Linked DNA regions of Homo sapiens. The protein of the gene in region 1 interacts with the protein of each later gene in a biochemical or structural test. Each region holds a gene or a part of one and is shown on either strand. Other genes may lie near its edges.

The links. The genes of interacting proteins can lie anywhere in the genome.
Region 2: the proteins of NET1 (region 1) and SNTG2 interact in a biophysical measurement, tested with the Homo sapiens proteins (one large-scale study listed by IntAct).

The regions. Positions count from the first base shown.
Region 1 is NC_000010.11:5,450,557-5,454,056, reverse strand, and holds part of NET1 (neuroepithelial cell-transforming gene 1 protein), read right to left. Parts: intron 2,228-3,500; coding exon 2,120-2,227; intron 1,700-2,119; coding exon 1,532-1,699; intron 1,233-1,531; exon of another isoform or gene 1,200-1,232; coding exon 1,137-1,199; intron 808-1,136; coding exon 711-807; intron 574-710; coding exon 497-573; intron 1-496. UniProt on the Homo sapiens protein: Acts as a guanine nucleotide exchange factor (GEF) for RhoA GTPase. May be involved in activation of the SAPK/JNK pathway Stimulates genotoxic stress-induced RHOB activity in breast cancer cells leading to their cell death.
Region 2 is NC_000002.12:1,261,849-1,265,348, reverse strand, and holds part of SNTG2 (gamma-2-syntrophin), read right to left. Parts: intron 3,455-3,500; exon of another isoform or gene 3,328-3,454; intron 3,014-3,327; exon of another isoform or gene 2,931-3,013; intron 1-2,930. UniProt on the Homo sapiens protein: Adapter protein that binds to and probably organizes the subcellular localization of a variety of proteins. May link various receptors to the actin cytoskeleton and the dystrophin glycoprotein complex.

The sequences.
Region 1 (3,500 bases):
AGTGAAGATTCATGACTTCTACTCCCCTCCAACCTCAGACACTGGCAGTCTGTGCTCCCAGGACACTTGAGTGTCCTCCATTTGCCACCAGCCCTGAGACTGTTTATGTGCTTGGCTATTCCTTCACTAGGCTATAAAGGCAGAGACTGCCTTTCATCACTGACTCCCAGCGACTCCTCCTCAAACAGTGCCCCGCATTTGGCATGCGCTTAAACATACATGACAGAATGCAACGGATAATCACACATGATGTGGGAATTCTATCCAAGCAGGAACGTATTTGTAACACAAATGAACCTATAGCATTAATGAAGGTGTTTTTTTTTTTTTTTAAACAGACTGTAACTTCTTATGTCACTGTAAATTTGTTCAGTTTTAACGCCTTATGTGTTTGTAGAACAGAGTTGTGGGATCAAATCTGTCTCATATTCATCAGAAACTGCAACATGGCACATCTGTAAGAAACTGTATCTGGGGTCAACAACTCACTACATACCCAGCTCACGAGAATGTGACCAATCTGCTCCACTGTTCCATCAGGCTTGGTTGCTTCTCCTATTCTTGTCAACAAATCTGAAGTGATAAAAAAGCATAAACACCATTAACAGGTTTATTTAAAAAATAGGTCAGCACTACATTAGAAGTTTAGACTGAAAATTACATGCACCGCTGCTCTTTAGATTTAATGACAATTAAGTGGCACATCTAACCTTCATGCAGAGGTATGTAAGAGTCCAGATCACCAAATATATGTGTGAGTTCCTCTTCTGACATGATGGACAACTTTAACATGGGGTCATGATAGGCCTGTCAGAGGGGAGAAATGTGTCACAGAGAGATCATGTGAGGAAAACATGAGGGATCTATACTTGGAAACAAAGAGAATTAATTACATAAAAGCTAGCGTGGATTCTGTTTGCTACACATAAAATAAATTAGTATGTATTAATCCCCAAATAAACTCTCTTACTAATACTTGTATTTGAGGATGTGTCTAGACCTCACCTAAAAAAAATGTATTCACCAGTAGATATTTTCTATTCTTCTACTTCTAAAGGTTAAGAAAACTATCCTTTAGATTTTGTGAAATGTAATTTTTAAAAACTAGGGCATCTGATAAAAAGTTATTTACTGACCTTTCTTGCAAGTTTGAGATCCTCAATTAAATCCTGTTCACCTCGGGACATTTCATATATTGCCTAAAAACATCCAGCAAACATCAGAGGTCATTCCTTCGAGAAAGGAAAATTATATACAACTGATAATTACATTATTTGATGTTTTGAACGGCATTTTAAAAAGTAACTCAGTCTGAAAATTGTAATTCAGAATGGAATCTCAAATACAAGGTTGCCGTATGTTTGGTAAGTTTACCCTATTAGAGTTGTTTAATTTGACCACCATCCATCATTAGGTTTTGTTCACCATGTATTAGGAATTGTTGCTCAAACACAAAAATCCAAGTTAATTTTGCCATCGGCATCAATTTGCTGTTCTTTTGGGAAAACATGTACACTGAGTGCCAGCATACCTCCTGCCGTCTGATCTCCCTGGTGGTGAGAGACTCCTTCATGGTGATGTCCAGCATCTCTGACCACAGTGCACTGCTCCTTCTCTTGGCGGGTGTTGGGACTGTTGACCTGCTAGAAAACTTCTGGGCAGAGGCTGGGGATCTGTGGTCACCACGAAGGGTAAATGACTTAAAAAAGAAAAGGTGAACAAAAGAGAAAATAAGATTTGGAAGAAATAGAATTATTCCCATTTTCTTTTTTTTTAAAGTGAAGAAAGACAAAGTTCTGAGAATTTCTCAATGCAGAAAACAATAATTTATCCAAGTTTCCACCTACCAATCTTAAATATTTATCAGCTAAAATTACATTTTTGGGAATAAAAACTAGCCAAGACTATGCATTATAAGATGCAAATTAATATAAGATGCAAATTAATATAATGAGGCTACACATTGTTCTGGAACAATATTCCTTACTAGCATATTCCAAAAAGAAAACTATGTTTAAATATAATAATGCAAACTTGTTTGTACAGCTCAAAGACAACTACAAATTCCAGGCTTCTATAAAGTCCGCTGACTACATTACTCTTCCTCCTCTCTTTTTACCTGTATTGTTTGACCAAAACGTCTGACAGCTCCATTTCTTACAGGAGAGATTAAATTTGCCAAGGACGTGACACGAGCCAGAGGTCGAACTCTTTTATTGCTTGGCTCCTATAAAAACAAACCAGATGACACTAAATATATGTCTAGGTGCAATGATTTCATACAAACTTGGACAAAGTAAAGCCCTCTCACAAAACAATTTTTGTACATTATAAAATACAGAAACATGAAAGTAAGAGTTGTTCTTCATTGTCAAAACAATAAGAACTCTATTGAGTAGCAGTAACTTTTCAAAAAATAAGTGTGTAAGAAAGGCCAGTCAAATATTTCCAATAGGGGAAAAAATTAAAATTCAAACAAGGAAATTACATCCTAAAATCTAATGAACTTTTCAGTTTAATGCAGGGAATAACTTTTTTTTTTTTTAAAAAAAAGCCTTATTGTTATGAAAATTTTCGAACATACATGAAAGTGGAGAATGGCATAATGGATCCCATGTGTCTATCGAGGGGCCTCCACAGTGTCTGGTATAACAATTTGTTTCATTTTTGTCCCTACTTAAATGTTTTAAAGCAAATCTCAGACATTGTATCATTTCATTCTTAACTACTTCCGTTAGAAAATACAACCTTTCAATCAACATGTCTGACACTGGAATGGGCTGAAAAATATTGAAGCCAAGGCAGGGAGGAGTTAAAAGAGCACCCAGGCTCTGAAATCTGACTGGGCACAAATCCCGGCTCTACCACTTGCTAGGGCACACCCTTGGCATCAGTTTTCTCATCTATAAAATGGGGCTAAAAGTAGCACTTCTCTTATGAAGTTGTTGTGAAGATTAAATGAATAATATGGCTTGAAACAGTGCCTGGCACATACTCAGTTTGAGCTATTACTAACAGATTTTAGGAATATTTCCATTTACTACATAAACACTGGGATTCATAGATAAATTAGATCCTCTCTCAAACAGTAATTTATTAACTTAAAGGAAAGATATATACAAATCGAGAAGAAATAGTTATGATTCTACATGTTATTGCTTTTAAATAATAATATAGCAAACACATCACTTATTCAAGGATTTTGAAACTTTACAAAAATTGCATTATTCTAATTTTATCGCTAGAAAAATGGAGGCATACCAGTAGGTGACTCACACAGTTACTGAAATGAAGAATGCCAGATCATAAAACTAGCAGGTCTATTCTTTATGTCTATGGAGCATAACTATTTGTATTTTGTGCTTCTGACAATTGTGGCATACTTGACAAAATAATTTTGATGAGAATCCAGGAGGATATATAATTTAAAATTATATTAAAATTATCACTGAAAAATAAGACATCATTTAAAAATAACAGAAGAAGCAACTTTTTCTAAA
Region 2 (3,500 bases), on another chromosome or scaffold:
TGTACGTGAATGTGTGTAGTGTGCATACGTTGCTAACCCTAAATGAGCCTTGAGTACAGAAACTGCACTTTAATTCTGGGGCCCTCTGGATCGTCTCCTTCAGCTGGGATACCTGGAACCTATAGGGTTACACGTCACAAACCAAGAACAACATGTTCATCATTGACCTTATGGTGCAGAAAGTATCTCTTTATCCACTGAACTTAAATGTCAAAACTGATAAAGAAAAACTTTTGGAAGATATTTATGTGGGAACGCACATCCCCCATTGAATGGCTCATTATAGTTGGGCCTTGAACAACCCAGGGGTTAGGGGCGCCAACTCTCACGCAGTTGAAGATTCATGCATAACTTTTGACTCCCCTAAAACTTAACTACTAGTAGTCTATTGTTGATCAGAAGCTTTACTAATAACATGAACAGTCAATTAACACATATTCTGTATGTTATACGTATAATATACTACATTCTTAGAATAGAATAAGTGAATTCAGGCACAGTGGCTTACACCTGTAATCACAACTAATTGGGAGGCTGAGGCAGGGGCATCACTGGAGCCCAGGAATTTAAGACCAGCCTGGATGACACAGCAAGATCCTATCTCTAAATAAATAAATGAATTAAGAAAGTAAGCTAGAGAATAGAGAATGTTATTGAGAAAATCACAGGGAAGAGAAGATATACTTAGAGCACTGCACTGTATTTATTGACACCATAAGTTTACATCATCTGTTTATGAGATGAATGGTCTGAAATGGTGGCAACCACGCTGCAGACCTCAATCTGTGGTGCACAGCAAACAATTCAGCTTTTTGGCAATGCTGTGATATTCCCGCTTCTTGGGGCACTTGCAACATCCCTTGTGGCACTTCGTGTGGGTCCCGGGGTGTTATTCAAGGTTTACGTTACTGGACTCAACACGAAGGAGGGAAGGTACACAAGAACTCTGAGAGATCACTCGTTACCATGCTCTGCAATTTACTGGAGAGAGAAATTGCTTCCACAGGGATGATTAAGACATTTTACTCAGAAACCCATGTCACACTATGTGCTCCAGTTAACCATGGGCAGGAATGATTGAACGCTGCATCTTTACCTTTGTCTATATTCCTCTCCACTGCAGATGGTGCCAAATTGATTGATTTATATTTTACAGGAGTAAATGATGAAATAGACTAGTATCTACATATATTGTATGAATTCACGACATCTCTAACTTTTTCTTAATGTTTTGATATTTTTAAGCTACACAGTTTGTCTTAAGAGGTTTTTACAATTGTTAAATTGTTTTCAAAAAATTTTCCAACATACTTATAGAAAACAATTGGCATACAAATGAGCCCACGCAGTTCAAGCCCATATTGTTCAAAGGTCAATTGTGTTTCTTTCCTATCACTTGCTATATTTGGGCAGCTGTGTATTATAATAGAAGAACACCAGGTTTTGGAGTCAGATAAAATTTGAGGCCTTTCTTTGCCCAGTATTAGCTGTTTGATCTTGAGCAATTCACTCTCTCAGAGCCTCCACTTTTGAGCTGTGAAATGGAATCGTGATAAAAATGTTGTCATAACTTCACATGACAGAGTGGCCAGCATGCAGGGCTCACATCCCGGATTCACATGAGTTCACTACGTGCTTTCATAAAGACACACGTCCTAAGGCAATGCTGAGCCAGGCCGTACATGTCGATTTGATGTCTGCTTTGCAGCTACCTGGCTTCCTGGCAGGGTCAGCTCTGGCAATATCCAGAACAGCATTTCCAGCCACCCCCACGACTGAAGAAAGCCCACCCCCCACCTAGGACTGCAAGACATCATCTTATTATGTTCCCTTTCCTGAAAAAAACAAAAAGGGTTGTATTCTAAAATTACATATTTTTTCTATTTATATTTATTATGAAACAATTATAGCAACAATAAAGGGAATTTAAAAGATAAACTTATTACTATGTTTTGTCATCTGATTTTTAAAAATATGTCAATAATTATTAATATAACCTTAATAATAGGACAATAATTAATATTCTCTTTCATGCAATGTGAATTTGTACATATAACTGTATAAATTTATAGTAGAATTACTTAAAATATGTTGTAAGATTTTAAAATATTTCTCAATGGTCTTTTGATTATTCTTCAAATATCATTAATTTAAGGAATATCCTTAAACATTCTCATACATATAGCTCTTTGATTCCTCTGAACTCAGTGTTGTAATGGACTCTTCTTTAGATTCAATTCTGAGGAGTGAGACTGCTTGATCAAGCAAGGGATTGTTTTTCCACTGTTTAGCCTCACAAAGAATGTGTTGTAAGTTCTACAAAAGGAAAATTAATTATTCATATATAGCTCATTTCCCCAGATAGTTCCTGTAGCTCCTTTAAAAACAATCACTCAGACCTTGTGGATCGCAGTGTGTTGATACGACTGGAAACCCTGAGCACTGAAGTTCAAGGTCAGCGGCTTGCCGTCAACAGTCAGTCAGCGGCTGGCTAGGCCATCGGGTTTCCTCGTCTGGACCGAGCCTTCGGGTTTCGTCGTCTGGACCGAGCCTTCCGGTTACCTCGTCTGCACGGAGCCTTCGGGTTGCCTCGTCTGCACGGAGCCTTCCGGTTGCCTCGTCTGGACGGAGCCTTCCGGTTGCCTCGTCTGGACGGAGCCTTCCGGTTGCCTCGTCTGGACTGAGCCTTCCGGTTACTACGTCTGGACTGAGCCTTTGGGTTTCCTCGTCTGGACTGAGCCTTTGGGTTTCCTCGTCTGGACTGAGACTTGACCCGGCTTCTTCCCACCTCTGGGACCTGGAACTCCCTATCTTTAGAGCATTTGCTTTAGAAAATGTATTATTGTATGTTCTTTCTCTGCCATTTGATACCTGAATCTTTCTAGAAGTCTCTTGCTGGCTGTACAACCCAGGACTGTCTTTCTCAAGGAGCTGGGAGCTGTCCCTTCAAAATGTGATCACTGGCAAGATGGCGTCATCTCCTGTCCCTGTGGAAGGATGGAGCCCAGCCTTGGTGGGTGCTTGGCTCTAAGCTGTGCAACCACCTCCTGTCATGAAGATGGGGGAAGCTCTCTGTTTCTTTGCAGGAGGCCAATTAACAGACAATGATGGCCCTAATCTCCTTCCCATCCCAACTTGTAGAAACCCTCTCATCCTTTGTTTCAGTGGAGTTGAATCTCTGAATCTCTCTCTCTCTCCTATCATAATAGACTTGAATAAGGTCTTCTTGCCTTCTTCGCCTTTAACTCTGGTGCAGTTTTGTCCTGACATGGCTTTAGGAAAATCATTTAGGAATTCTTCCTCTCAGTGTTGATATTATCCAAACAGGACTACCCCGAAGATCCGTGGAGAACACGTTCTAGAACTCTTAACGGCCACTCGCGACAGGCTCCCGGAACACCACTGCTTCTAGCACGTGGAATAGAGCGGGATTCGGGATGAGCTTTGCAGCCACGTGAGTCTGGGCCCCATCCCTGTCTCTGCTTGGCTTCTGGAAAGTC